Linked DNA regions of Homo sapiens: regions 1, 3 and 4 are each linked to region 2. The links come from fine-mapping of genetic effects on gene expression. A gene starts in region 2. Each other region holds a variant in brackets. All regions are shown on one strand. Distances are from middle to middle. Region 1 holds the start of LOC105374870 (a long non-coding RNA gene). Region 2 holds the start of DUSP22 (dual specificity phosphatase 22). Region 3 has its middle 43 kb from the start of DUSP22. Region 4 has its middle 23 kb from the start of DUSP22.

Region 1 (7,892 bases), 65 kb before region 2:
GATTCTGGGGAAGAGGGCTTGAGCCTGAGCTGCTCTAACCTCTCCTTCAGTCCTCAGCTCCCTGCGGTCTCTCTATAGAGATATGAGACACCCCATTCCCAGTACAAGCCACTTTTCCAGCTTCACACACACGCCCTCTTGGATATGCTCCCTGTGACGGGCAACCGTTCTACTGGAAGTAATTCTGAAAAAAGCCTCTGAACCCATGAGGCCCACGTGGGGCTTACCTGGCATTCAACTGTGTTCTCCTACATGTCACCATGTCCTGTCTCCACGACTCATGTTTGATCCTCGCGGGGGCATCAGAGCTTCCTCAGCACCTAGCAAGGCCATCTGTATATGCAGTGGTGATCCCCATTTCAATGTAAATTACGACCACTCTCCACCACTGCTACCCAGGATGTTTCCCAGACTCCTTAGGTGTGTGAGGTGCAGAATCAACCAACTGGAAAGAAACACTCTTAGCCACTTTAATACTCCTCCTCCCTCTTTCTAAATTTCCTAAACCAGTTGAAAATGGGCACCTTTTCTGAGAAGCACAAGCTGTCTCTTGCCCCTTTTACAAATGTCAGTCATGTGTTGCTTAAGGACAAGGATACCTTCTGAGAAATGGGTCCTCAGGCAATTTGCTGTTGTGTGAGCATCGCAGAGTGAACTTCCACACACCCGCGTGCTATGAGCTGCTTTACACCTGGCGATATGAGACAGCCTGTCGTGCCAGGCTGAGACCTGCATGTCACTGCGCTGAGTGCTGTCGGCAATTATGACACAGTGGCGTGTGTGTATCTAAACAGAGAAAAGGTGCCGTGAAAGAACAATACGAAAGATGAACAACAGTACCTGTGCAAGGCACTTACCATGAGTGGAGCTTGCAGGACTGGCAGCTGCTCTTGTGAGTCAGTGGGTGAGTCGGGAGTGAATGTGAAGACCTAGGACATCACTATGACTACTGCAGACTTTATAAACACTGCACACGTAGGCCACACTCTCTCTCTCTACATATAAAGTATATATATGTGTGTGTGTATATATATATAATTGTGCTAAGACGTTGAGGTGGCTACAATGTCATCACATGATAGGAATTTTTCAGCTCCCTTATACTCTTACAGGACAACCATAGTATACGCTGTCTGTGGTTGGAAATGTTGTTGTGTGGCACATGACCGTATGGAAGAACAGAGAAGACCATTCAGAGCTTCATCGGAGGCAGTGGTGACCGCAGGACCCCTGCATCTGCTTCAGCCCAACCAGACATCCCTGACCCTGCCCAGCAGACCCTGACCTCCGCCACAGATAACCTGGGAGCCTGTGGGCACGGTCAGCAGGGGGCGTGGAGTCTGAGGCACATGACTCTCATGCGCCAGCCCAGTGGTGCCCGCACCTCATTCTTAGAATTTCCTGGAAGTGGCTTTGCTCTGAATGCCTGCGCTGGCATCACAGAAACAAAAGTTTCTTCCCTGGAAGGGATGGGAGCAGCAGGGGCTGGTGGAGGAGCTGCCACTGTTTTGGTCACAGAACCACGCGTTCTCCAGGTGAAAGGTAAAGCTTCAACTCTGCACAGTAATCCAGGGAAGCATCTTCTTCAACGGGACGCGAGCCGCTTTCTCCTGTCGCTGTGGGTTTCATTTGTGGCGACGTCTCTGCAACATCCATTTTTCCCTGAGTTTCTTTCTGGCCGTAGCATGCACCTTCGGGGGCTACGAAGTTCTGATGCTCAGGTACTACAGGAGATCCATTGAACTGAATCTCTGGAAGTGGGGCCCAGGCCTCTCCTTTTCAGAAGCTCAGTGTGTGCTTCTGATGTACAGCCAGAGTTTAGAGCCATCAGGCTCACCCAGTCACGGTGATACCAACTCTCCAACCAGTGACTGTTCTTGGAACATGCAGATCACTCTATTCTAGACGTGAGGCATGAGGAGAAGCCTGCAGGAAGCTTCTGGAAAGGAGTTCATCACTCCTAAGGGGAAGATAGTACCTCTCTGTCTTGTCCAGATGTGACACCTGGCAGAGCTGCCTGGAAGACACCAGTGCCCCAGGCGCCAGGTGTGTAGAGTCACAACCCTGCGTGCCGTGTCTGGAGTCTGCCCTGGCTCTGGGCTTCCTGTGGTAGGTGATGACACAATGCCTCACTCCCTAACCCTGCTTGAGGCTTGGGTGTGAGTTATTTGTAGAGAAAAACATTCTTACTCATTCCTGGGCCTGTTCCTTCTGTACCTATAGGGAAAGAGCGGAGGAACCAGGTTCCCGGTCCAGGCCCCACTTCCTGTTACGCCCTTTAGCTGATTTCCTCTGTTCCTCGCCAGATTCTAGAAGGTTTGCGAACTCTGCTCATGCAAAGTCTGGCTGCGGGGGCAGTGGAGTTGCTGGAAATCAGACTCGAATGCCACACTGCTTCAGGAAACCGAGGTGCTTTCCTCCGTGTACAGCCAGTGTGCTCCTTAGGTCTCTGCATCAGCCTGTGAGGGGGATGAGATCACCGTCCTGTTTCAGAAGAGGAAGGCGAGGCCCGGAGAGGGCGCAGGGTGCCCTGTGGCTGTGGCCACCCGGGAAGGGGCTGTGACGCCCTCGTGGTGCAGGGATGAGGGACGCTGCCTGCCTTTGCTGTCGAGCAGAGGTCTCACCCCTGCTTTGTGAGTTTCTGAGTTTCTGAGTGACCTCAGCAAAGCAGCTCAGCCTTTGAGCTCAGCTTTCTCATAGGAAAACGGGGTTGAAAAATCTTCCCCACATTTATTATGCAAAAGCAACCGACGGAGGAGCGCCTGCTGATGCTCAGCAAAATGCCGTCTGTGTGCTGCTCATCATTCCACGCCTTCACCCTGAACGCCCAGCTTCTTATCAGAGTCTAGGGGCAGCAGAGAGTGATTGAATACGCACGTGTGTCCACACTGCAGCCACGGCAAGGCCGAGAGAGGGGCTCCCCACCATGCTGGCGGCCTGGGGCCTGGACAGAGCCAACTGGGGAAAGTGCCTCGCAACAGACCAACCTGGTGAGGGAGGCGGGGGGAGCACATGGCGCAACCCACCCTCCTACCATCCACATTGCAAAGCCCCAGCGATTCCTGGGCGTCACTTTTCCACCCCCACCCACCCTGTGTCTCTGTGGCTTCGGGCGCGAGCTTGTGGGGCAGAGCCAACAGACAGAGCTGGGGACACCTGGGGCCGCTTCACAGCGAGATGCCAGACTCAGGCCTTTACCAAGCTGCGCGTCACTGGTAGAAAAGGACATTAGGAACACTAGGTAAAAAGCAAAACAAAAATAAATCTCACTTGGCATCTTTCCCATTATAGTTCAGTCGATGGTAGCTATGATTCTATTTGCCTGTGTTACTATTTACTCTGAAAGAGTGGATTTAGGCCAGAACATTTGCAGTCTGGCTGTGTAAGGCACCACAACAGTATCAATGAGCCGCCGCACTCAGGATGATTTAGCTCTCCCCATTTTCTCAGATCTCATCACCCCCAATCCTCAGCTCCCTTGTGACCAAAGGTTAGCATTCTTCACAGAGTAGTTAGTCTGTGGACTGGGGGTGAAGCGAAGCCCCTCCATTTCCTGGGTCTGGAGACCCAGGGCCTCCGAAGCTCTGGCCTGGGCCATGCAGACTTTTCATGGAAGGTGAGGGCAGGGACTTCTGACACTGAGGCCCTGAGTTGGGGCCAAAAGTTTTAGGTGAAGGGCACCATCCCCAGCAAGAATGCTCTCACTTCAGATGCCAGCTGCAAACTCCAGGGTCCCCAGGCCACCTGCACTTCTGACCAAGTCAGGGGTTCCCCTGACCCCTTCAGAGTCAATAATTCACCAGAATGACTCTCAGAACTCCGGAAAGTGCTACATGTATGATGACAGTGTTATTACAAAGGACACAGCTCAGGACCAGCCAAAGGAAGAGACAGCAGGACACAGTCCAGGAGGGCCTGGAAGGCAGAGCTTCCATGTGCTCAAGACCGGTCACCCTCCCACTACATCCATGCGTTCACCACCTGGAAGCTCCACCAAGCTTTGGGGCCAGAGCTTCCACTTGGGTTTCATGACATACTCGTGA[T/C]TGATTGAATCACTGGCCTGATGGTTGAACTTCATCTCCAGCCACCTCCCTTCCCTAGAGGTCAGGCTCAGAGCCCTGATCCTCTGGTGACACGTGGGTCTTTCCTGTAAGACCGTCACCCGTCCTGAAACCACGCAGGCCCCCACCGTGAGTGACCTGTTAGCATAAATTATCAGGGCCCACCATGAATAGCAGAGACACTCCCATCACTTGGGAAATTGTAAGGCTTTAGAGAGCCTCTCCCAGAAGATGGAGACAAAGGCCAGCATGAGTCCTCATCACACAGGAGGAGTGTGGGTGTCGTGAGTGTGAGCGGTCTTGCTCACACAGGCACATGCCTCTGTTCTCTAGAGACAAAAACCACAGCTCCTTAGCATTTCATGCGAAGCCTGCCATCCACTGGCCTCATCCCTCGTTGCCTAACGTGGGGCTTTTTCTGCAAGGCCGGTGCTCGCTGTCCTCCTCAGGGAAATTCTCACCAGCTCCCTGGAGCATGGCTGTCATTCGATCTTTGGTGTAAACAGCATTCGACAGGCTTCTGTAATCATAATTATCATGACATAATTGTAACTTTTCTTCTCAATACAGTCCTTTTCTCCATTCGATTAAAGTGATATTTTGCTTACAAGTAACAAAAACCTGGCTTAAAGCACAAGGACATTTCTAGTTTACTTAAGTCCAGAGATAGCTGGTCCCAAGGTATTTCGGCCACTCAGGCCACTGAGAACCAGGTTATTTCTGTTCTGTCATCCCTAGAGAGTTGGGCTGTCTACCGAGCAGTCACTGTTTAACATGGACATAGGCGGCAGCTGCCTGGGAAAGCACCATGTGTTTTCACAACGGGGTTCCAGGTTCGCAAGAGAAGGACTTTCTGCTCTTGCACCTCTCTCCCTTATGGGGGGGAAATATTTCTGGGCAGCCCCAGCAGACATCCTACTGGATGACAGGGTCTCTCCTGGCATTCTCCCCTGGCAAGGGGAGTGTGTGGGTGCCTCTGTTTGGGCCATTCCTCAGAGCGACTGTATTGTTCCCTGAACATAATCAGGCTGCCCCGCAGGATGGTGGTGGGAATGGCTGGTGAGCCTTTGACACTGCGAGGTTGTAGAATGTGTTCTAAAACAACAGAGAGGCATCAGAGCACGAGGAGGGAGGGAGGGAAGGAAGAAACAGGCAATGGTGGGAATGAGGAGCAAAGGAAACAAGAAAGAAAGATTTAAATCAGGCAGGAACACCAGGTCCTAGCGTGTAGGTACTTTTTAAGATGGAATGTACTTTACAACTAAACCCTATGTCAGATTCATGTTCATTTATCATGACTTCATTATATGCTGTAGTAGCTTAGTAGTTTTCAAAACTTTTTGTTTTTTTGAGACAGGGTCTTGCTCTGGAGTGCAGTGGCACAATCTTGGCTCACTGCAACCTCCGCCTCCTGGGTTCAAGCAATTCTCCTGTCTCAGCCTCCTGAGTAGCTGGGACTACAGGCGCCCACCACCACGCCTGGCTAATTTTTGCATTTTGAGTAGAGATGGGGTTTCACTACATTGGTCAGGCTGGTCTCCAACTCCTGACCTCAGGTGATCCACTCTCCTCGGCCTCCCAAAGTGCTGGGATTACAAGCGTGAGCCACCGCGACTGGCAGTTTTCAATCTTTTTGAAGCAAGCAAATTTTATATTAAAAAAAAAAAAACATTGGTTTTTTGGTGTGTGTGTGTGTGTGTTTTTTTTTTATCATTTGATAGGTCAATATAAAACAAAGGCAATCCATTTTCCACCCAGAAGTGACTTATACCACATGCTTTGTCTAAGCCTTCATTTGCTCTTGGGAAAAATGTTCCTCATCTTTCTAGAATGAAGAGAAGTACTTTCTTTGGAGATTGACAGGGGCCAGAACAAAGTTAAATAATGTACTCCTGGAAATGCAATTTTGTCAAAGGAGTAACTTCTCTCAGTCCTCAACGCGTGCAGTCATTACACAAGTGCTCGGCAGAGTCAGGGAGTCTCAGCATCGTTCTAGAAAGCCCAGATTGACCGCCTTCCTTCCACTATGCCTGGGCTGGCGGGAGGGCAGGACTAAGTGGCGGGATTGCACCCCTCCCCGCAATGTCTAAAAGTGGAGCCGGGCTCAGCCAGGCAGTGGGTGGGGGTGTGTGGGTCTCAGCCAGTTTCAATGGTTTTGACAATGAAACTCACCTGGGTGTGTGTTATTTGGCTTTGTTCTTCAGATTTAGACCCTCTCCTAAGTCAAATTGAAACTCCCCGAACTGGTATCCTATAAGAGCTGACCCTTATAGTAATGTGTGCTTCGAATCATGTGAACTGAAACCTGTGGACTTCCCACAGCCCAGCAGGACCCACCTTCCCAAGCAGCAAACCCTGGAGCCTCGAGCTGACACGTCAGTCCTTGTGCTTCGTGCACATTTAGAAGGAACTTCAGACAAACTTCATTCACTTCAAACTCTGTCCCCTTGGAGCCTCGAGCTGACATGTCAGTCCTTGTGCTTCGTGTAGATTTAGAAGGAACTTCAGACAAACTTCATTCACTTCAAACTCTGTCCCCTTGGAGCCTCAAGCTGACACGTCAGTCTTTGTGCTTCGTGCAGATTTAGAAGGAAATCCAGACAAACTTCATTCACTTCAAACCCTGTCCCCTTAACCTATTTCCAGTATCCAGAGGTAAAGCAAATCCTTCAATGTGATGCCCAAATAAAACTATAAATATACATATGTAATATATACAAATACAGAAAAATATATACATACATATGTGCACACATGTCTATATGTTTGCATGTATGTATATGATATTGAATCACGCTTTTTCATTTAATAACATGACTTGCAGAACCTTCCACCTGCATATTTAGTTCATATCACTTTATTCTATTTAATAGCTGCAAAACCTCGATCCAGTCTCTTCTATTTGTTGATACGAGGGCTCAGCCCCCCACCCACCCCTCATTTTTTTGGCCTTGTTAATGATGCAATTAATGTTGATAGATAGATAGATAGATAGATAGACAGACAGACAGACAGACAGACAGATAGATAGATAGAGATATGTAGAAAGATATCTATGTATCTCTATGTATCTATTTTTATATGTACTTAAAAACAAATATCTGTAGAGTGAGTTGCCTGAAAAAGGATAAGTGTATTTTCACAGGAATTACCTATTGCCCGCCAAAATTGTTGTCCAACTCAGCCTCTCACCAGTGGTGCAGGAGACTGGTAAACCTCACCAATGCTGGGTTTTATTAAGCTTCATTTATTGCCAATGCTATGTAAATAGCCAGTTATACAGCACTAGTATTTTGCTTTCCATTTCCTTAATCAGGAGTGTAACTGAGAAATCTGTCTCATGTTTGATGGTCAAGAACTGGCTTTTGAGAGTCTCTATTTTTCAATAGAATATTTCCCCTTTTCTTTACTGATATGACAAAGCTCTCTTTACAATAAGCAAAGACACCTATGGTTGGTCACCTGCCTTGCAAAACTTTCCTAAGTATATTGTTTCTCTTTTGGTTTTCTGTATTTTATATGTAAAAGGTTAGGCTTTTTGTGAAATTTGGTAATAAATGTTATTACTTCTGGCATTCCTGGCCTCTTTCATCATGACTATTTTTTCAATCACTCATCTTTTTTTAGCCCTCATGATTCCAGCTCCTTTTAACATATGACACCGCTTTTGAAAGATGGTGGTTGCTAATCCTGAAGCCGTTGACTCCCCAGATGACGTTCCCGTGAAACGCTTGGCAGTTGCAAGAGGAACTCGGGTCCTCAGTGCCGTTTACCAAGGCCGACAAAGTCCAGCGGCATTATCGTGTCATCGTGACATCGGTATTTGACTGT
Region 2 (7,456 bases):
ACTGCTTGGAAGGCTGGAAATTGTGACCTTTGAAGAGTTGAGGTCGTATACCACAGGGGCCCATCCTCATGGTCAGGCTGTTCTGCATGGCCTTGAGAACTCAGGTATTCAACTGGGCAGCCTCTCTCTGGACAATGCTGGAGAAACAGAGAAAATGTTTTGTGCTTTTGCTTCCGTAGTTCCAGGTTCCACCTTTTTTCTTCTTTCCACAATTCATTAGATTCTCACTTTCTTTTACTTTTAGTCAGGCTTTGGCTAGATTAGATCTTCATTTTAACTTCTTGTTCTCAATTTGTTAATAATGAACAATTGTGGCTTAAGAATTCTGCAGAGAACTAACATGATCTATTAGTGTAGATTTAGCTGGTTATTGAGGAGAGGGGGTTGGAGACATTTCTGATTGTCATGACTGAGAGGGTGCTACTGAAATGTAATGAGCACAAGTCAGAGATGCTTCTGAACATTCTGCAGTGCACAGGACAGCCTTCTAGAGCAAAAATGTATCCAGCCTCAAATGTCAGTTTTGCCGAGGTTGAGAAACCCTGGACTGCAATATGTTCAAGAGGCCAGTGAAGATTACATAATTACTTCTCTGTTGGATAGAGGTTAATCTTGATGCTCTGAAATTATCACTAACACCTATAATGATTTGGCTAACTCTAATGGTTGAGCTTCTGCTTGCGGGCTTTTAAACACCGCCACCTTAAAGTTTAAGGTTACTGCTCACTAAATACACTATTAACCAGTTATCCTTAACCATGTGTAAGTATGGACTCAGCTATCCTACACACTCTGTAGACCATTCCTTATTGTGCACACATGAAGGCTTGACTTCTTTCGGAGTTGTTGCCAAAATTTGTGATGTTGGCAGAACTGAGAGGAAGAAAATAACAAGAAGAAAAGTGGAAGTAAAAATCTTACATAGTGTGAAAATCCACCAGGCTTGTGATGCCTTAAAATTTTTATGAGTGAGATAAAGCACAAATGAATAGAGATTCTACTATGGATGTGAAATACGCCAGCTTTGTTGAAGTGTTTCCCTTCTTCCTTTCTTTCCATAATCAAGAGCTAGAGAGTAAAAGTCATAGAACTGCAAGACATGAACAACTGGGAATTATTATTGTAATAAAGAGAGGTGTTCAGGGTTAGGGTGGAGGAGAGTACAGCAAGTCTCTTGTGGGAAACCCCCCAACCCCACAGAATCAATAATTTTTTTTTTTTTGAGACGGAGTCTTGCTCTGTTGCCCAGGCAGAAGTGCAGTGGCACAATCTTGGCTCACTGCAGCCTCTGCCTCCTGGGTTCCAGCGATTCTCCTGCCTCAGCCTCCCGGGTAGCTGGGATTACAGGCACACGCCACCACGCCCGGCTAATGTTTGTATTTTCAGTAGAGACGGGATTTTGCCATGTTGGCCAGGCTGGTCGAGAACTCCTGACCTTAGGTGATCGGCCCGCCTCGGCCTCCCAAAGTGCTGGGATTACAGGCTTGAGCCACCACGCCCAGCCAAAACCAATAATTTTTTTTTTTTTAAATCTTACTCTTCTGACTTCTGGTGTTAATAGTCTCCTCTTTTCCTATTTAACCCAAAAGAAAAATTTGAGATTTTGATAGGAACTCTGGGCATGTGGACCTTTTAGGCCATACTGAATGCTGATTTTGACGGTAAGGAGGAAGCCATGGCAGGTTCTGAGTTTAGGGGGAAAAGCAGATGGTCCAAGCTGGAGAAATATATCTACAAGAAGAGTATGAATAAGAGAGAAATATTGCAAGTGGATGACAGAAGAAAAAAATCAGTATGAATTTGTCATTCATGGTCAAGTACCAGTTTATGAACTGGTTGTGTTCTTAAACGTTCATCTGACTGTTGGATGAATGGCCCAAGGAGGGCAGAAGGCTGCAGAAGTAATTCATTGGTTGCTGGATAGAAGCTTCAAAAATTCACAGTTTAATGCTCTTGTTTTAAAGAGAAAAAAAAAGCTAGCTCAGAAAAGTTGATCATCTTGCTCAAGACCTCCTTAAGAATTAGAAATAGAGGCTGATTACTGGGATTCCCCAGGCAGTCCACTAACGATTCTGTGTTGTCTCTAAGCAGGAAGGTGGTAAAAACAGTTACTTAATGGCAGTGTGTGGCAGAGGGGAAAGGGCAGGCTGTCCAGGTGACTGAGAAGCAGGCGGGAGAAGAGGAAGTGAAGGCAGTGAAGAAGGAACACTCTCCCAAAACAAGAGGCAGAAAGGGCACTCCGGGTCTGGGTCCCATTCTACCTAGAGAAAACATGCAAGCGCATATTGATTGAGGGCTTTCTACACGGGGGGTTTTGATACCATTTGTTGCCCAGAAGATATGGGGTACAAGTACAGAAATGGCGACAGATGGAGTCTACAAGCTCTTTCCAAACGTTCACATTCCTCAGAACCTCACCCGTTTTCTCGGCCACAAGAAATTATTAATTTATTTGACAAATATTTTAAAAATCACTATTTTGTGCTAGATTTTGTCCCAGGCCACATGGCTGTATTACTGAATAAGACAACTTTTTTTTTTTTTTTAATCTGAAAGTTGCTGGCTAGTGAGACAGATAAAAAGAAAGCAAATACATGTATTTCCGATCAATAATACGGAGTAATATGATAGTGACTGGAGGACCAACCTGGAATTGGGTGGTTAGGAAAAGCCTCTTAGGAGAGATGGCATTTGGGCTGATACCTCAGCGATAACAGGCAGGTATGCAGAGAGCTGGGGATCCAGGTGTCTGGATAGAGAGCACAGCCCAGCAAGCCTGACAGGCTCAAGGAACAGACAGGAGACCAGCATGTGTGTAACTCGCTTAGCAAGAAGATAAAATGAAGTCAGCAGGGGTGAGCCAGGGCACGTCAGATTGACGCATGTACTCATTCAGCAAATATTTATTAAGCACCTACTATGTTCAGGACATTGTTGAGGATACATAAATTAAGAAGAAAAACCACTGGCTCAAGGATTCTGTCGCTGGAGAGAAACTTCAGAGTTTAATAACGTTGATAGAACACCCAAAACAATTCTGCTACAGTTTAGAAATTGATCCATTCCAGACAGAACCACAATGCAGACATTAAGGGACACACATCATCTAAGGCCGTGAGGTCTGAGGTCAGAGATCCAGCCATCTGCTCCCCCAGGGTAGGGAGGTCGGGCCTCCCCGGGGTGAGTCACGTAGCCCACCTCTCCCCACCAGGCGAGGCTTCTCGGTCTTGGTGCATGGGGCAGGGCCGCAGGAAATCCCCCAGCCTAAATCTGCCGCACTCAGAAAACCCAGGCAGGGGAGCCCCCAGAGACCAGGCCTCTGATTAGCACCTGATTCACGGAGGCAGCCAAGGCTGGGTAGCGACTGCTGGTAACTGGCCCCCGGAGTCGCCCCAGGGGAAAAGGCCAAAGGGGGATCTGGAGACCCCCGGCCGGGGAGCGGGCTCCGAGACGAGCGCAGCCGCCCGGTCAGGGCAGCGCCTGCGCGTCCGCCAGGCCCCGCCGCGCAGCCTCGGGTGTCCCGGCGGGGCGGCTCGGGCCGCGCACGCGCTCTGGCCTCCGGGGCCGGCCGCCTGGGAGCCCGAGCCTAGTGCCTCCCACGCCCGGCGGCCGCGAGCCGGGGTCCGCGAGGGCGGAGTGGGGCGCGGCAGCCAGGAACCCGACTACGAATCCCAGGGTGCGGGCGGGCGGAGCGAGGAGGGACGCTGGGCCTGCCCGGTGCGCACGGGGGCGGGGACCGGCAAGGCGGGACCATTTCCCGGCATAGGCTCCGGTGCCCCTGCCCGGCTCCCGCCGGGAAGTTCTAGGCCGCCGCACAGAAAGCCCTGCCCTCCACGCCGGGTCTCTGGAGCGCCCTGGGTTGCCCGGCCGGTCCCTGCCGCTGACTTGTTGACACTGCGAGCACTCAGTCCCTCCCGCGCGCCTCCTCCCCGCCCGCCCCGCCGCTCCTCCTCCCTGTAACATGCCATAGTGCGCCTGCGACCACACGGCCGGGGCGCTAGCGTTCGCCTTCAGCCACCATGGGGAATGGGATGAACAAGGTAACGTCTTCCCTCGTTCGCGCTGGGTTTGCCTCCGCTCCGACGCCCTGCCGTCTCGCCGGCGTCGGCTGCCCGACGACTCGAGCCCGGGGTGCCCTTTCCCGCGGTGGGGACGGGCGCGGAGGGAGGGGCGGCGCGCCTGGGCGGCGACCGCGGAGTCGGGGTTCGGAGGTGTTCCCGCCCCCACCCCACCCGGCTTCCGGGTAGGCAGCCCCCAGCCGCCTGCCTTGCCAGCCGGTGCGTTTTCGTGGCTGAAACAAGCCGCGCCCTTTGAAAGCGTTGACACTTGTTCTGCCGAGAGGTCAGCTGAGCTCCGAATGGATGTGGCTTCTTTTTTGCCCTCCTCTTCGCTCCCAAACTACGCTCTTGAAGCCACCACCGCCCCCCCCACATCATTAGTAAACGGGTGTCCTCTGTAATTTCCTCTTTCTCCTCAGATTCTGTGTGTGTGCCTGTGAGCACAGAGAAGTTTTTCTTGTGGACAGAGAAGTTAACAGAGTCCTAAGTCCTGAGCTGTTTCTAGATAGTGGGGAGGAGAGAAAAGATTCAGAGTTGATTAGGTTATGTGACTTCTGCAACAAGGGCAACCTGTTGCTGGCTGCTTGCGCTGATGAGGCCTTCTGGAAAATCTGTGTTGCTCCATTTGTCCCGTCCGTTTCTGGGCCCCACCCTGTGTTCTTTTGTTGCCCGCACCTCACTTCCCGGGCGGTGGGCTAGCCTTTCCCGTCCAGGGAAGTTGCCAGATTCCAGCTCTGGCAGCTGAGAGTTGCCGGGGTGTATTCATGTGAACCACAGGGTTAAGGATTTTGTTACTTGGTACTTGGCTGGTTTCGAGGAAGGATTGACAAGACTTTACAAAGCCCGCAACAAAGACAAGTACCTTTTTACGGGTCTTTGAATGGTCCTGGATTAGATGAGTCGTCTTTCTGCTTCACTTTTTCATTGCGCTCCACCCACCCACATCTCTACATGCCGTCAGCTTCCACACTGGGTGGGGATGGCAATGTGGCTGTGTTTTTTTTCATGTCCCTCAGCACTGGGTCAGCAGTGGTTTGGGTGTTGGGGCTGGAGTGTTGCAAATGCGGATTCACGGTAGGGCAGGGAAAACCTAGCTAACTTTTCACGTGCGCATGTCGTGTTTATTGTGTCCTGGTTACCCAGTTTGTGAAAGAACTATTGTGTGTTTGGGACCTGCATATCAATACTGGGGTATTTTGGTAAAGAGAATTGTATTCACTTTTTTTTTTTTTTTTTTTTTGGCGAGTGATCAAGTTTGGAAACAGACTGTCTCTCTCTTGGATAAATACTTGTATTATATTCCGATGAGCACTGGAATCCATCAGCACCACGAGCCTTCTGCTTTTTAAATTAAAACAGAACAATAAAGATGGTCATCATAAGTCTGTGGGCTCCGTTTGCCTTCCCATTGGTGGTGGTATCTCAGCTTTCCTTTGGCTGTTTCTAGTTTTCCCACTTGAGCTGTTCACTCTCCACCGTTTTCAGCATTTAATTTATAGTATTTGTGTAATACAATTCAAAAAATATATTTAGGAATACAGATGGTTGCCTAAGGGATCAACGTTATTTTCATGCTTTTCAACAAAAGCAGTAATATTCATATACTTTTTACCTTTCAAAATGGGTAATAAATTTCTTGACTTTTATTATCTTGTGAATAGAGACTCACAGTGTATCAATGAAGAAATACATGTATAGAGAGATTTAGAGACTTCCCTGCTTCAACACTTATTGATTATGTACATACTATGAGCCAGGTGTTGTGCTAGTGGGTGGGGAGGGGGCAAAGGGAGTACAGTGGTAAATGACCCAAAGATTCTTCACAGAACCTTCAGTACAGGTCAGCATTGTCCAGCACTAATATGATGCGAGCTATATATGTAACTTAAAATGTTCCGGTAGCCACATTAAAAAATAAACCGGTGAAATTAATTTTAATAATATATTTTATTTAACAATATATTAAAACTATTGTTTCAACATGTAACCAATATATAAAGTTATTCATGGAAGATTCCATGTTTTTTACTATGTCTTTGTGAAAGGAAAAATCTCGGGACCCCCAGATCACTTAACCTTCAAAGTCTAGTGTGTATTTTATGCCTAAATCACATCTCATTTTGGACTAGCCACATTTGGAGTACTCGATAGTCACTGTGGCTAATGGCTGCTGTGTTGCACAACACAGGGTGTGTATGTGTGTGGGGGTGAGAGAGAGAACAAACACAAGGTAGGGAGGAGTAGAGGCTCCAGAGGATAAAATAGGCAATTTCAGAAAAGTGGGGAAAGCAGAAGATGGGATGAAAGTGACCTAGAAGGGGCATTCAGCCCAGGCAAGGAATCCTGCTGCAGTAAACATGTTTAACGTGAGATCAGGAGGAACTACCCCAAATCACAAGGTTCATTAGTGGCAAAGTAGATCGCAGGAGGCCAGTAACTTAAGAACCTTAACTAGAACTTTTCCATATATTACTGTGTGACTTGGAACGAGGCTTCATCTGTAAAAAAAGAAGAATGGTTGATTTGCAGAATCAGCGGAAGGTGCTACCCCTAGAAATCCTTTTCTAAGAACATTTATAAATATGTGCAATGTCTTTGGAACTAACATAACTTGGAATGTGTGTGCCCTGAGGTTACTGGGACAAGATTTCTTTCCAATCTCGTACACATTGGTCATTTTTGGCAAAAGAGCATTTCTGGTCTAAACAGTGCACGCTGCATTCTGAGTGCTTTGGGACAGCAGTTTTTATCATTCACATCCCTGTGGTGGCTCTTCTTGTCGGTCCGTTCCGGGCTCCTGTACGGCGGAATATTGTGCCCGTTTCCGTTAGGTGTACGCAGCAGATTATACAGAAGATGGAGGGGAAAAAGGCTTTTATATTCTAGAAAATTAAAGATGAGGAAATAAAGACAGGACTGGGCGTGGTGGCTCGTGCCTGTAATCACAGCACTTTGGGAGATTGAGGCAGGTGGACTGCTTGAGTCCAGGAGTTTAGAACCAGCCTGGGCAACATGGCAAAACCCTGTTTCTACCAAAAATACAAAAAAAAAACCCACAAAAACAAAGCAATCAGCCGAGTGTGTGGTGGCTTGTGCCTGTAGTCCCAGCTACTTGGGAGGCTGAGGTGGGAGAATCACCTCAGCCCGGGAAGTCTAGGCTGGAGCGAGTCGTGATTGTGCCACCGCACTCCAGCCTGAGCGACAGAGCGAGACCCTGTTTCAAAAAAAAAAAAAAAAAAACCCAACAACAACACAGTTGTGAACCATTTTTTTTAACACTTTATAAAATCTCAGCCTCACGGTAGCCCTATGAGGTCAAACGACCTTATATTTGCCCAGATTGGGGAATGGAGATTTGGAGAGGTTAGGTAGCATAAGTAATGCCAGGCAGGGCAGAA
Region 3 (7,892 bases), 43 kb before region 2:
GTATGGTTCTCAGAATTCTCTATTGAACCCACTGTAACATTTAATTAATGAGTGAAATAACATCTTTGACATGTGTTCATTTTATATTTGCATAAGAGTCTGCCAATCACCCTTTAACACATTTCATCACTACTCTTGAGTTCACTCTTCCCTCCTTCATAAAGCCGCATCACCTTCTGACATGAAGCAAACCCTGAAACAAGGTCTGCAAATCACAGGCTCATGATGGGCCCAGATTCTCTGCAAAAAAGAAAGGACATCAAATAAGATAGATGTCATAAAGTGATTACCTTCATTATGAGCAGTCTGGAAACCCAGTCTTGGTAATGGTTTGAAGTCATCAAATGTATCTACTCCCCTTATATAAATTTTACAGTTGTGTAGGCATGTTAGGTTGAACCATATGAAATTGCTGTTCTACAGGTTAAAGTGTTCAATATGAGCAAATCCCCATGGTTTGACCTAATAGATATGTATGCAATTATAACACTCATATGGATGTGTATGTAGAGATACACAACGCACGCATTCATACAGAGTAAAACTACATCATGAGTGAAAGTTCTGGGCTAATTTAGGTGTAAGCAGAAAATCATGCTTCTTGGTGTACGTGTTTCTGTTCCTTTAAACTCTAATTTCTGGAAGTTTATGTGAAATGAGGAGAGGAGTCTGTGCTATATTGTGGGAAACTTATGAGGCCAGGAATTAGGAAACCTACAGTCTCACTTGCTCTAAGACGTACTCATCCCTTTAGTGGACATTACTTTAGTAAATTTTTCTTGGATTCTGAAGGATTTTACAGGTTCTCAATCTGTTTTTTCCTGAGGATCCAGAATGGATAGGAGATTGGGTTGAGTTGAAGCTTAAAATTATCTATTTTCCTTTTGTTTTGCTTCTTTCAGTTTTGAAGAAAAATATTTCCTGATATAACCTTTTTTTCCTGATTGGCCTCTTTCTACCAAACTAAGAGAGCAGCAAACACAAAATGTGGCTGAGATTCCATTTGGCAGGAATCCAGCGATTCTGAGTTTGGTTCTCCACATTTTGCAGAACACATCCGCCTGACTCACAAACCTACACTCTCCCATGTCCATCATGGTGAAGGTGCCGACATGATGCTAATGACTCACACGCACCAGAGGAGGGTGACACTAGACGCACTCGTGGAGCCACTCATGCTCGGTTTCCTAATTATGGGAAAGACTTGTGTTGAGCCACCTTCACGTTCTCACCTTCTCCTCTGCAATGTATGTGACCTTCCAGCACAGGCACCAGCCCTTAGAAATATGTCAGCCTGTCTGGTCAATATGGTGAAACCCCATTTCTACTAAAAATACAAAAATTAGCGGGGTGTGGTGGTGGGCGCCTGTAGTCCCAGTTACTCAGGAGGCTGAGGCAGAAGAATCCCTTGAACCTGGAAGGTGGAGGTTGCAGTGAACCGAGATCACACCACTGCACTCCAGCCTGGGTGACAGAGAGAGACTCCGTCTCAACAAAAAAAAAAAAAAAAAGAAAAAAGAAAGAAATATGTCAATATGTCAGCCTGTAAAATCTGTCTCCAGAGAAAGGGAAGAGAAGGAATTACCATGTCTTGGCTTGGGTTGTAGTTGGTGAAGTTTACTATTGTGTACAGAAGAACTTGAATTTTCTCTAATCATTAGTAGTAAGTAAAACATGCTTCTTAATGGAGTGACTGTTGTGGAGACATAGAGAAATACAGAAAAAAAATTACATATATATATATATGGAACAGGGTGAGGGAGAGACAAAAGAGAAATAATACACACTTTTTTGCATAATAGCTTTATAGAGGTATAATTCATACCATAAAATCACTCTTTTAAAGTGTGAAATTTAGCGTTTTTTAATACTTTTGAAGAGTTGTGTAACCATCATGACTACGTAATTTAGAACATTTTTATCACCTTCAAAAAAAATATATCCCACACCTATGAGCAGTCACTCCCTATTTTCTCTTCCTCCCAGCCCCTGGCAATCACTAATTTAGTTTCTGGCTCTGTGGATTTCCCTTTTTCAGACATTTCGCATCCATGGTCTGATACAGCATGTGGTCTTTTGCGCCTGGCTTCTTTCACTTCACATTTTCAAGGTCTTTGGGGGTCATTAGCGCCGTGCCATGGATAAGAACTTCATTTGCTTTTGTGGCTAATAGTCTCTTGTATGGATAGACCACATTCTGTTTAGTCACTCATCAGTTGATAGACATTTGGGTTGTTTCTACTCTTTGGCTATTACAAAAAATGCTGCTACTATGAACATTTATGTACAAATGTTACGTAGACATATGTTTTGATTTCTGGGGTATACACCCAGGAGTAGAATTTTTAGGTAATATAAGAACTCTGTTTAATATTGTGGGTAACTGACACACTGTTTTCCAAAGTGGCTGCACCATTTTACATTCCCATGGTAAACTAAGAGGGTTCCAATTTTTCGTGTCCTTGCCAATACTTACTATTTTTTTTGAGATGGAGTCTCACTCTATTTGGAGTGCAATGGCGTGATCTCAGCTCACTGCAAACTCCGCCTCCCGGGTTCAAGCGATTCTCCTGCTTCAGCCTCCTGAGTAGCTGGGATTACAGGCAAGCACCACCACGCCCGGCTAATTTTTGTATTTTAGTGGAGATGAGGTTTCACCATGTTGGTCAGGCTGGTCTCGAACTCCTGACCTCGTAATCTGCCTGCCTTGGCCTCCCAAAGTGCTAGGATTACAGGCGGGAGCCACAGCGCCTGGCCAATACTTACTATTATTTGTCTAATTATAGCCATCCTCATGGGTGTGAAGTGATATCTCATTGTGGTTTTGATTTTCACTTCCCTAATGGTGGATAATTTTTGGGCATCTTTTCATATTCTTGTTGGCCATTTATATATCTTTCTTAGAGAAATGTCTGTTCAGATCCTTTGTGCATTTTTTTAAAAAATAGCTTATTTTTCTTTTTATTATTGAGTTGTAGATGTTCTGTACTTATTCTAGAAGCAAGTTACCCTTCTATTCTGAATATATTTGATTTGCAAATATTTTTCCCATTTTGTGGGGTTTTTTTTTTTAACCTGATGGTGTCTTTTGCAGAACAAAAGTTTTTAATTTTGATCAAGTCCAATCAATCTTTTTTTTTCATTTGCCACTTTTGCTTTGTTGTTTTATCTAGGAAGACTTTACCTAACTCAAGGATATTAAAATTTACCTTTAGTACTTCTTCTAAGAGTGTATAGTTTTAGCTCTCACATTAAGGTTTATGACTCATATGGATTTAATTTTTGTGTATGTAAGAAAGGAGTCCAACTTTATTCTTTTGCATGTTGATATTCAGTTTTCCCAGCACCATTTGTTAAAAAGATCTAGAGAGAGGAGGGTAATACTGGACCTACTCATAAAACCACCCGTGCTTGATTTTCTAATTTCTAATTTAAAATTATATCTATGAGTCTAATAATTTCCTAATTTTTAAAAATATTTTAATTTTTAATTTTGTGGGTACATAGTAGGTGTATGTATTTATGCAGTACATGAAACATTTTGATACAGGCATATAATGTATAACAATCACATCAGGGTAAACGGGGTATCCATCTCCTAAAGCATTTGTCATAGCTTTGTGTTACAAACAATCCAATTATAATCTGTTAGGTATTTTAAAATGTACAATAAATTATTGTTGACTGTAGTCACCCTGTTGTGATATCAAATACTAGATCTTATTCATTCTAATATATATATTAGAATATATACATATATTCTAATTCATATATATACATATGTATAAATAGAAAAGAAATATATATATTTCTTTTTTTTTTTTTTTGTAGATGGAGTCTCGCTCTGTCACCCAGGCTGGAGTGCAGTGGCATGATCTTAGCTCACTGCAACCTCCGCCTCCTGGGTTCAAGTGATTCTCTTGCCTCAGCCTCCCAAGTAGCTGGGACTACAGATGCACGCCACCATGCCCGGCTTATTTTTGTATTTTTAGAAGAGACAGGGTTTCAGCATATTGGTCAGGCTGGTTTCGAACTCCTGACCTCAAGTGATCCACCTGCCTCGGCCTCCAAAAGTGCTGGGATTACAGGCATGAGCCACCGCACCCACCCATTCTAACTATATTTGTGTACACTTTAACCATCCTTCTGTCCTCCCCACCCCAGCCCTTACTACCTTCTGGGAACCATTCTTCCCCTCTGTATCTCCATGAATTCAACTGTTTTAATTTTTAGCTTTCA[C/T]AAGTGAGTGAGAACATGCAAAGTTTGTCAGTCAGTGCCTGGCTTGTCTCACTTAACATGATGACCTCCAGTCCCATGCATATTACAGCATCTAATTCTTTTCTATGGCTGAATAGTACTTTATTGTGTATATGTACCACATATCCTTTATCCATTCATCTATTGATGGATACTTAGGTTGCTTCCAGATCTTGGCTATTGTGAATAGTGCTGCAATAAACATGGGCATGCAGACATCTCTTCAGTATAGTGATTTTCTTTCTTTTGGGTATATACCCAGCAGTGGGATTGCTGGATTCTAGGGTAGCTCTATTTGTCAAAATTGATTGGCCACAAACATAAGGATTTATTTCTGGACTCTAAATTCTCTTCCATTGATCTACATGTCCGGCTAGTACCACACTGTCTTGCTTACTGTCACTTTGTAGTAAGCTTTAAAATCAGGACGTGTGAGTCTTTCAACTTTGTTTTAATTTTTCAAGATTGTTCTGGTTATTCTTGGTGCCTTGCCTTTCCGTATGAATTGTATAATAAGCTTGTCAGTTTCTGCCGAAAAAAAAAAGCCAGCTGGGATAATGATAGGGATTATATTGAATCTGTAGATCAATTTGGGGAGTACTGCCGTCTTAACAATAAGTATTGAGTATTCCAATCTATGTTCATGAGATGTCTTCCATTAATTTAGATCCTCTGTAATTCTTCCAATGATGTTTTGTACTATAGTTTTCAGTGTAGAAGTCTTGAATTTTTTGGAAAAATCTATCCTTAAAATATTTTATTCTTTTTGATACTATTATAAATGGAACTATTTTCTTACTTTTATTTTCAAATTGTTCATTGCTAGTGTATAGAACCAACCGACTTTTGTATATTGATCTGCTACCCAGCAACCTTAATGAACTAATTTTATATGCCTAATAGTTTATTTTGTGGCATGCTTAGAATTTTTAATATTAGATCATGTCATCTACAAACAGAGATAGTTTTACTTCTTTCTTTCCCATCTGATGTCTTTCACTTTTCTTTCTTGTCTAATTGTCCTGGCTTGATCCTCCATTGCAATGTTGAATAGAAGTGGTGAGAGTGGACTTCCTTAGGGCAAAAACATTCTGTCTTTTACCACATGTGTAATGTTAGGTGTGGTTTGTTTGTAGATTCCCTTGATCAGGTGGAGGAAGTTCCCTTCTATTCTTAGTTTTTGTGTGTTTGTATTATGAAAGATTGTTAAATTTTGTAAAATGCTTTTTTTCCCATCTCTTCAGATGACTATGTGGTTTTGTTGTCATGCTATTAATACAGTGCATTACATTGACTGATTTTTCAAAGTTAAAGCATCCTTATCTTCTTTGGATGAATCTCATTGGATTCAGTTTGTGTTTTGTTGAGGATGTTTGTATTGATATGTATAAGGGATATTGGTTTGTACTTTTCTTATGATATCTTTGACTGGTTTTGGTATCAGGGTAATACTGGCGACATAGAATAAGGTGAAAAGTGTTTCCTCCTCTTCTCTTTTTAAGAGTTTATGAGAGGGTCCGGGCGTGGTGGCTCATGCTTGTAATCCCAGCACTTTGGGAGGCTGAGGCAGGCGGATCGCTTGAGGTTGAGAGTTCGAGACCAGCCTGACCAACATGGAGAAACCCCATCTCTACTAAAAATACAAAATTAGCCAGGTGTGGTGGCACATGCCTGTAATCCCAGCTACTCAGGAGGCTGAGGCAGGAGAATTGCTTGAACCCGGGAGGTGGAGGTTGCAGTGAGCCGAGATCACACCACTGCACTCCAGCCTGGGCAACAAGAGCGAAACTCCGTCTAAGGAAAAAAAAAAAAGTTTATGAGAGATTGTTGCTAATTCTGCATTTGATAGAATTCACCAATGAAGCCATGTGAGTCTGAGCTTTTTGGTAGGAAGTTTTTAATTACCAATTCAATCTCCTTACCTGCTACATGTCTATTCGTATTTCTTATTTACCCCTCTCTCGGCTTCAATAGTTTGTGTCTGGTATACACATGTTAAAATAAAAATGTTAATTTGAAGTTTCTCCCCATCCCTGTCATCTACCTATCCTCCTTATTACTTGGGCTCATCTCCTTGACAGCAACTATAGGAAAAACAAGAAAGCAAAAATATTATCTCTTTACATGCGACAGATTCCTTTGGATTTTGCTCCCCCATGGCTTCTTTTGATATGTTTGGTCTCCTAGCCCCTCCTCTTTAAAACTTCTCGACTCTAGAAAAACACAGAAGAAAAAGACTGAGCGAGAGAAAGAGAAAGATTGTTCTAGTGAGATTTGAATCCATTCTGTAGTGCCACATGGATAAAAAGTAGGCCTATCAAATGTCACAAATGGGCTTGACTCACTTGGCATCTCAAAGCCCTTATGACATGTAACTGCTAGCAAAGGTGTGATGATTCATATCTTCAGCAGAATTGAGAACATGAAACTCTACTTTGCCTTCCTCCTTAGAATTGTTCAGAGGAAATGTTATTTCTTCCCTGAAAGTTGGTTGCAAGTTTCTTTCCTTTCTTACTGAATGAAATGTCACATATATTGATAGATGACCACTTTCACACAGAGCTAGGTAAATAAGATTATGATTCTTATATTAATTCCAGAGTGATGATTTGATAAAGAGAGGAGATAATCCATCATTTCATCCTTGCAACAGAGGTCTCAATTTTGTTGTTATTAGAAGGAGATGAATTATTTTTTCTTTAATATACTTTAAAAAACAAAACCAACCACCATCAGCAACAAAAATACTCTCTAAACTTGTGTTTAAACTGCAGCGGAAAAAACTATTTTAGTGAACTTAGCATTTTCCTAGTATTACCTCACCTCAGGATTTGAGTTTTCCAATGACTGTGGCAGTGCCTTGTTATTTTTAGGGATTCGACAGCCTTTTCTGCAAACCGTCCCCTTAAACTCTCCCTCATCTACCTCTGCATTGTGATTATCTCATATATCAAAAAGTTTCTTTTTCTCTAAGATGAAGCTGGCTTATCTTTATTCAGTCTAGAAGATTTGATTGCACAGAAATGATCTAATAGTTGCCCACCGAAGGATTTCACTGCACCCGAACTCATTCAAAATGCTTCCTTAGTCAGTTTGTTCTTGTTTTCCTTCTAAGTTTTGCATGCTTCTTAAACCCTGTTTCAGAAAGTCAAAGAAACATACCTTCTCATTCATTTAAACAACACTGAAGGACCTGAAAAAGCCTGTCCTTAATTATTTCATAACTGAAACGAAAACAAATTTTAGCATGTCAGTCTGATCTTGTAAGCCATACACAGGAAACCCAAGGTCAGCGTAGAGTGTCTTATTCTAGAATGGTAAGCCAGGCATTATTGTTTCTATTATTCTATAAATTACAGCTGACATGCATGTATGACAGCTTAACACAGATATTAAACAGACCAAAGAGACTTTCAATTTCTACCTACAGTGACAGATTATTTATCTCAACAGGTAAAATCATAATAAATCCAAAACTCTTAGGGATGCCATGAAGTGTTTATTTTCTAGTTGGAGAGGAAATTATGTTGGCACCTTAATTACGCTTTATTTTACTGTTTCATTCATGGGCCTCGGTTGCACAGAATCAGATGACTCATAATTCTTGCTTCACCACACACTTCCCCACTGGCCCA
Region 4 (7,892 bases), 23 kb before region 2:
CTAGTATGCCATTTGTTCCTTGACTTGTTCATAATGGCTTTTTCCATGCAGAAATACTTGACTTTCATGTATCTGAATTTATAAAAGTGTTCTGAGTTTTGTATAATAGCTGATGATTCTTCATTCAAAGGGTGTTTGAAACATTTTCCTTAAATGATTTTAGTACTTTTCTTATTTCTTTTTTCATTTTTTTTTTTACCTATTATTAATTTCTTCAGAATGTATGCTGATACAAAGTGTAAGGGAGGGATCTATATTTACTCACCTTTCTGGGTGGCTTTCTAGTTATCCCAAACTATATAGTAACAAGTATATTGAATTAGCTTTGGTGTGATCTAATTGTGAAAACAATGTGTTGTATCTGCTGAAGCCAACTTCCACTGATCAGAGAATTTTCTAATGTAAAACAGTGCAGCTGTGTCCCATATTTTGTTACCAAATCTGTCCTTAGTAGAAAAGACATCTAAGGATTCCTAGGTCAGCCAGGTAGATAATTTGTCAACAAGTCAATATTCCTGCTTATTCCATTCTAACCTTCTGTTCCAGGTTAGGAAATGGGCTTGCTATAACCTGGACTCTATCTGCACTTCATTTCAATGATTGTATCTTTTTACAGCTTTCAGTGGGCCACTGCCTTGAAAACCTTTTAGGTGCCATTAGGTTTGCTTTTTTTTTTTTTTATGAATGAGGAATGCAGCCCTATTGTAATCTGCTGTGATACCACCCCAAGATCAACCATTGTATCTCTGACAGAGTTGTATCTCTGACTGTTTTCTATTCCTATTATGATGTGCTACCCATCTAGAAGAAAATATTTATAAATCACATACCTGATAAATAACTTTTATCGGCTATATATATAGAGAACTCTTAAAGTCCAAGTGTAAGAAAGCAAACAACCATTAAAAATGGTAAGTTTTTACAGACATTTGAACAAAGACAATCATATGAATGGCAAATAAGCACAGAAAAAGATATGCAACATTATATGTCATTAGGGAATAAGACATCACTTGATACTAATTAAGATATCTCAAATTACAGATGATGACCAAGCCAAGTATTGGTGAGGATGTAGAATAGCTGGAACCCTCCTTAATTGGTGGAGGGAATATAAGCTAAACATAGTCAAATACAAACCTGCTACATGATCCAGGCATTGAACTTCTAGTTATTTACCTAGAGAAACAAAAGCATAAAATATGTACATAAATATATATGGCAACTTTATGTGTAATCACCATAAATTAGAAACTACTTAAATGTCCATTAACAACTGCATGGATAAATAAATTGTAGTATATTCAAACACATACAAAGGAGTATTCACACTGCTCAACCATAAAAATGAATTAAGTATTAATACATGCAGCAATATGAATAAATCTCAAAATAACTATGCTGAGTAAAAGCAGGCAGACAAAAAGAGTGAACAAAGTACATTATTCCATTTATATAAACTCCAGAAAATACAAACTACTCAAGAGTTGGTATGGAGTCAGCTGGGCACAGTGGCTCACACCAGTAATCCCAGCACTTTGGGAGGCCCAGGTGGATGGATCACTTGACCTTAGGAGTTCCAGACCAGCCTGGGCAACATGGTGAAAGCCCGTCTCTACTAAGAATACCAAAAAAAATTAGCTACACATGATGGCACATGCCTGTAATCCCATCTACTTGGGTGGCTGAGGCAGGAGAATTGCTTGAACCCAGGAGACAGAGGCTGCAGTGCCTGGAGACTGCGTCATTGTACTCCAGCCTGGGCAGCAGAGTGAGATCCTGTCTCAAAAAAAAAAAAAAAAAGAGTTGGTACTGAGTCTATATGCAATGGGGGAGCCACTGGAGGGTGTTGCCCATGGTGCTATGTTTTAGGGCTCTCTGGAATTAAATGTAAAACTGCATTCATAAACTGATATTTCTGGGGAAAAAATTTCAAAATATCACTCCTTGGGAAGGCTAGAATGAACTCTGTGGTACTGGTGGTACCGTATTAGAGTTGGAGACATAAGTATGAACTCAGGTTAGCTTAATATAGATGGACAGATACAGAATAATTATAGCCGTGTGTGTCCATGAGTTAGTATACAATTTACATCCTAGGTCTGCCCATTGAGAGGGCCTTGAGTCAGTGAGCCCCCAGTGGCAATGGGCATACCCAGTGCCAAGGTCTTAATTTCTAATCATTCTTCAACAAAAGGAGCCAGGGTTCCTTGGAGAAATCGCTGACTATGGGACTGACAGGGAAAATACAAGATAGACCCGGAGTGTCTTGCAGTGCCAGCAAGAAAAGAAATAAAGCAATTGGGATGTGAACAAGTGACACAGGAGCCAACTTGGAAGAGCTCCCGACAGCCAAAGCTGAAACCATGTGAACAAGAAAATAGAGAACATACTATTGAATTATAACCCAAAGTGTAAAATAAACATCGTGAGTCCATACTAACATAAACTGCATAAACAAATAAATATGCACAATTCCTCAGGGATCTAGAACTAGAAATACCATTTGACCCAGCCATCACATTACTGGGTATATACCCAAAGGACTATAAATCATGCTGCTATAAAGACACATGCACACGTATGTTTATTGCGGCACTACTCACAATAGCAAAGACTTGGAACCAACCCAAATGTCCAACAACGATAGACTGGATTAAGAAAATGTGGCACATATACACCATGGAATACTATGCAGCCATAAAAAATGATGAGTTCATGTCCTTTGTAGGGACATGGATGAAATTGGAAATCATCATTCTCAGTAAACTATCGCAAGGACAAAAAACCAAACACCGCATGTTCTCACTCATAGATGGGAATTGAACAATGAGAACACATGGACACAGGAAGGGGAACATCACACTCTGGGGACTGTTGTGGGGTGGGGGAAGGGGAAAGGGATAGCATTAGGAGATATACCTAATGCTAAATGACGAGTTAATGAGTGCAGCACACCAGCATGGCACATGTATACATATGTAACTAACCTGCACATTGTGCACATGTACCCTAAAACTTAAAGTATAATAATAATAAAAGAAAACAAATAAATATGTAAATAGACAAGAACAGACAAATCTTTCACATGGAAGGATTACAAATAATTTATGTAATACCTTGCTCCCCAGGAGATGCGCTTAGTCCTCCCTCCCCGCCTCTGCCAGCTCATGCATGTGGGGCTTTGCTGGATGACTTGCTTCTAAAGAGTAGAGAATGCCACATTTTGTTTCCCCATTTATTCATCAATGTGCCTTTGGGTTATTCTTATTCTTGACTAATTTTGAGTAATACTGCTATGAACATGGTTATAAAAATATCTGTTTGTGTCGTTGCTTCCAATTCTTTTGTGTATCTCTGCAGAAGTAGAATTTCTGGATCATGTGGTAATGTTATGTGTAATTTTTTTGAGGAACTGCCATGCTGTTTCTCACAGCGGCTGCATCATTTTATATTCCCACCGGCAATGCACAAGAATTCCATTTCTCTGCATCCTTGTCAACACTTGTTTTTGTTTTCTATTGCTTTTATATTTTTTATAATAGCCATCATAATGAGTGGGAAGTAGTGCTTCTTTGTGGTTTTCACGTGAAATTCTCTAATAATTAGTGATGTTGAGCATCTTTTTATGTGCTTATCAGCCATCTGCATATCTTCTTTGGAGAAATGTCTGTTCAAGTCCTTTGCTCATTTTAAAATTGGGTTGTGTGATTTTTGTTATTGTTCTTTATATAGTCTGGGTATTAAACCCCATTAGATATGCAAATATTTTCTCTCATTAAATGGGTTGCCCTTTTAAC[T/C]GTGGTTATAGTGTTTTCTGGGCAAAAATTTTTTAATTTTGATAAAGTACAATTTGTCTATTTTTTTCTTTTGTTGCCCATGATTTTGGTGTCATATCTAAGAAATATTTACCAAATCCAATGTCATGAAATCCTTCCCCTATGTTTTCTGAATTTTATAGTTTCAGCTTTTATGTTTAGGTCTTTGATTCATTTAGAGTTAATTTTTGCACATGGTGTTAGGTAAGGGTGCAACTTCATTTTTTTTAAATATGGATGTTCAGGTTCCCAACACCATTTGTTGAAAATATTTATTTTCCCCTTGAATGCTTTTGGCATCCATGACAAAAATCATACATCCATATGTGTGAGGGTTTGTTTCTGGGCCTTCTATTATAATCCATGGGTCTATATGTCGGTTTTTATGTCACTACCACATTGTATTGATTACCCGTAGCTTTGTAGTAAGTTTTGAAATCACGAAGTGTGAATGCTCCAACTTGATATTTCTTTTTTTAAGATTTTCGTTGACTATTCAGGGTCCCTTAAGTTCTGTATGAATTGTAGGAGTTTTCTATTTGTCAACATAAAACAATGTTAGGATTTTGATAGAGATATCATTCAATCTGTGGATTATCACTTGGGGGTAGTATTGATATCTTAACAATATTAAGTCACAATCCGTAAATATGGGATGTCTTTCCATTTATTTATCCCTAATTTCTTTTCAACAAAGTTTTCTAGTTTTTGGTGTACACATCTTTCACCTCCTTGGTTAATTCCTAAAGATTTTATTCTTTTAAGCGCTATTATAAATGGAATTTTTTAAATATTAATTTTGAATTGTTCATTGTAAGTGTACAGAAAAGCAAATAATTTTGTGGTTGATTTTGCATTCTGCAACTTTACTGAATTTTTATATTAGTTGTGTGTGTGTGTGTGTGTGTGTATAATCTTTCAGGTTTTATATAAGATCATGTCATCTACAAACAGAAAGATTTTACCTATTCCTCTCCAAATTAAATGCTTTTTATTTCTTTTTTCTTGCCTAAGTTCTGTGGCTATGCTATGGACTAAGTGTTGTGTCCTCCCCAAATGTATTTGTTGAGGCCCTAGTCTGAATTGAGATGGTAATTAGAGGTGTTGTTTATCCATGAAAAAGAGTTAAGAGTTAAATTTTGTCAAATGCTTTTTCTGCATCAATGGAAATTATTGATGAAGAAGAAGAGAACTTACTTCTATTCTCTATTTCCTTCATTCTGTTAATGTCGTGTATTACATGATTGATTGCCATATGTTGAAGCATCTTTGCATTGCAGGACAAAAGTCCATTTGCTCACTGTATATGATCCTTGTAATATGCTGCTGAATTTGGTTTGGTAGTATTTTCTTGATGATTTTTACCTCAATATTTATAATGGATATTCATCTATAGTTTTTTGTCACATTCTTCCCTGGTTTTGGTATCAGAGCAATGCTGTCCTCTGAATAACTTAGGAAGTGTTTCTTGCTCCTGAATTTTTTGAAGAGTCAGGAAAGGATTGGTATTTTTTTCTCCTTTTAATATTTGGTAGAATGTATCAGTAAAGCCATCTGGTCCTGGGCTTTTCTTTGATTGGAAGTTATTTATTTATTTATTTATTTATTTAACTTTTTTATTATTGATTCAATCTTCTCACAAGTTATAGATCTACTAAAATGTTTTCTTTCTTTCTTTTTTTTTTTTTTTTTGAGACAGAGTCTTGCTCTGTTGCTCAGGCTGGAGTGCAGTGGCACGATCTCGGCTCACTGCAACCTCCGCCTCCCAGGGTCAAGCAATTTTCCTGCTTCAGCCTCCTGAGTAGCTGGGATTACAGGCATGTGCCACCACGCCTGGCTAATTTTTGTATTTTTAGTAGAGACAAGGGTTCACCATATTGGCCAGGCTGGTCTTGAACTCCTGACCTGAGGTGATCCGCCCACCTCGGCCTCCCAGAAATTGTTTTATTTCTTTATGACTCAGTCTTGGTAGATTTTGTGTCTCTAGAATTTTGGCCATTTTGTCTAGGTTAGCTAATTTATTGGTGTACAATTATTCATGGTACTCTCTTATATTCCTTCATATTTATGAAAAATTGGTAGTAATGTCTCCACTTTCATTTCTGATTTTAGTAATCTGAGTCGTCTCTCTTTTTTTCTTAGTCAATCTTGCTAAAGTTTCTCAATTTTGTTGATCTTTTTGAAGAACCAACTTTTGGCTTCACTGAGTTTCTCTATTGTTTTTCTATTCTCTATTTCATTTATCTCTGCTCTAATCTTTATGATTTCCTTCCTTCTGCAGCTTTGGGGTTAGTTTGTTCTTCTTTTTCAAGTTCCTTAAAGTATAAATTTAGGTTGTTGATTTGAGATCTTTCTTCTTTTTTAATGTAAGCATTTACAGCTTTAAATTTCCCTCTTAGCAGTGTTTTCACTGCATCCTATAAATTTGGGTATATTGTTTTAATTTTCACTTATTTATAAGTAACTTCTAATTTCCCTTGTGATATCTTCTTTGATCCATTGATTGCATAAGAAAATGTTGTTTAATTATCATATATAGTGAATTTTTCAGTTTTCTCTTTTTGTTAATTGATTTCTAACTTCAACTTGCTATATTCGGAGAAGACACTTTTATAAAAATAATATCAATCTTTTAAAAATGTATAGACACTAGTTTTGTAGCATAACATATGTTCGATCCTAGAGAATGTCCCATCTGCATTTGAGAAGAATATGTATTCTGTTTTTGTGGGGTGGGACGTTTTATACATGTCTGTTGGATGTAGTTGGTTTATTGTGTTCTTCTAGTCCTCTATTTCCTTGCTTATTTTCTGTCTGCTTGTTCTATTGATTATGGAAGTCTGCAACTATCATTGTAGAACAGTCCACTTCTTTCTTCACTTCTGTCCATTTTTGCTTCATGTATTTCGTGGGTCTGTTATTAGGTGTGTAAATGTTTATGACTGTTATATCACCTTGCTATATTAAAACTTTTATTACTATCTAATATCATTCCTTGTCTCTTTTCAACTTTTTTTTAAACTTAACTCTATTTTGTATAATATTTCTATCCCTTCCCCAGCTCTCTTTTGGTTACTATTTGCATGAAATATCTTCTGTCATCCTTTTACTTTCAACCTTTTTGTGTCTTTGGATCTAAAATGAGTCTCTTGTAGACAGCACATAGTTGAATTATTTTTAAAAATTTATTCATCAATCTCTGTCTTTTCGTTTGATAATTTAATTCATTTATACTTAAAATATTCACTAGTAAGGAGAAACTTATTTCTGCCATTTTGCTATTTGTTTTCCATTTTGCCTTTTGTTTTCATCTTTCACATTACTGTCTTACTTTGTTTGAGTTTTTGTAGTGAAACATTTTAATTGCTTTCTCATTTCTTTTGGTATATATGTTATAGCTATTTTCTTTGTGGTTTCCATGGGAATTACATTTAACACCTCCATTTATAACAGTCTAATTTGAACTTACACAAGCTTACAGCTCTGTCTGTACCTTTTAATTGTTGATGTCATAAATTATACATGATCAAAAACAATGACTAATCATTGTTTCTCTATGTATTTGTCTTTTAACTCATAGAAAATAAAAGGGGAGTTACAACACAAAATTACAATTATATTAACTTCTATAATTACCCATGTAAATCCTCTATTGGCTATCTTTATTTCGTCATATGGCTTTGAGTTTCTTTCTAGCATCCTTTCATTTCAACCTGAAAATCTTCCTTTAGCATTTTTTACATTTATAGCCACTATGTATTTAAATCACTTTCTTTCTCTTTTCTTCTTCTTGAACTGACACAATGAATATGTTTGTCTCCTTGACAGTGTCCCATGGGTCCCCTGGACTCTGTTCACTTTTCTTCAGTCTTTTTCTGTTTCTCTGACTCAGTAATTTCCATTGTCCCATCTTCAAGTCTGCTGATTCTTTCTTCTGCCTGCTCAAATCTGCTTTTGAAACTAAAGAGTTTCAAAACTTCACCAAAGTGAATTTTATATTTGTTATTGTACTTTTCAACTCCAGAATTTCTGTTTTCTGTCTTTACTGATATATATATACATATATATATATTT

The links.
Region 1: its variant is fine-mapped to the expression of DUSP22 in whole blood (TOPMed, PIP above 0.99).
Region 3: its variant is fine-mapped to the expression of DUSP22 in whole blood (TOPMed, PIP above 0.99).
Region 4: its variant is fine-mapped to the expression of DUSP22 in whole blood (INTERVAL, PIP 0.95).

The regions. Positions count from the first base shown.
Region 1 is chr6:223,119-231,010 of GRCh38, forward strand. LOC105374870 (a long non-coding RNA gene) reads left to right here and starts at 7,812. Exons shown (of 3, transcript XR_926357.3): 1 at 7,812-7,880. RefSeq lists enhancers at 2,317-2,476, 2,537-2,586, 3,882-3,941, 4,502-4,631, 4,642-4,761 and 1 more. The variant T/C (reference allele first, on the strand shown) is at 4,044.
Region 2 is chr6:288,521-295,976 of GRCh38, forward strand. DUSP22 (dual specificity phosphatase 22) reads left to right here and starts at 3,967. Exons shown (of 7, transcript NM_001286555.3): 1 at 3,967-4,040. The coding sequence starts at 4,020. RefSeq lists enhancers at 2,930-3,219, 3,146-3,646, 3,647-4,147, 4,440-4,699 and silencers at 3,330-4,349, 5,094-5,250, 5,130-5,189, 5,200-5,259.
Region 3 is chr6:245,472-253,363 of GRCh38, forward strand. No RefSeq gene overlaps it. Among named protein-coding and RNA genes, the nearest start is that of DUSP22, 43 kb to the right of the region's middle. RefSeq lists an enhancer at 6,653-6,722. The variant C/T (reference allele first, on the strand shown) is at 4,240.
Region 4 is chr6:265,355-273,246 of GRCh38, forward strand. No RefSeq gene overlaps it. Among named protein-coding and RNA genes, the nearest start is that of DUSP22, 23 kb to the right of the region's middle. The variant T/C (reference allele first, on the strand shown) is at 3,801.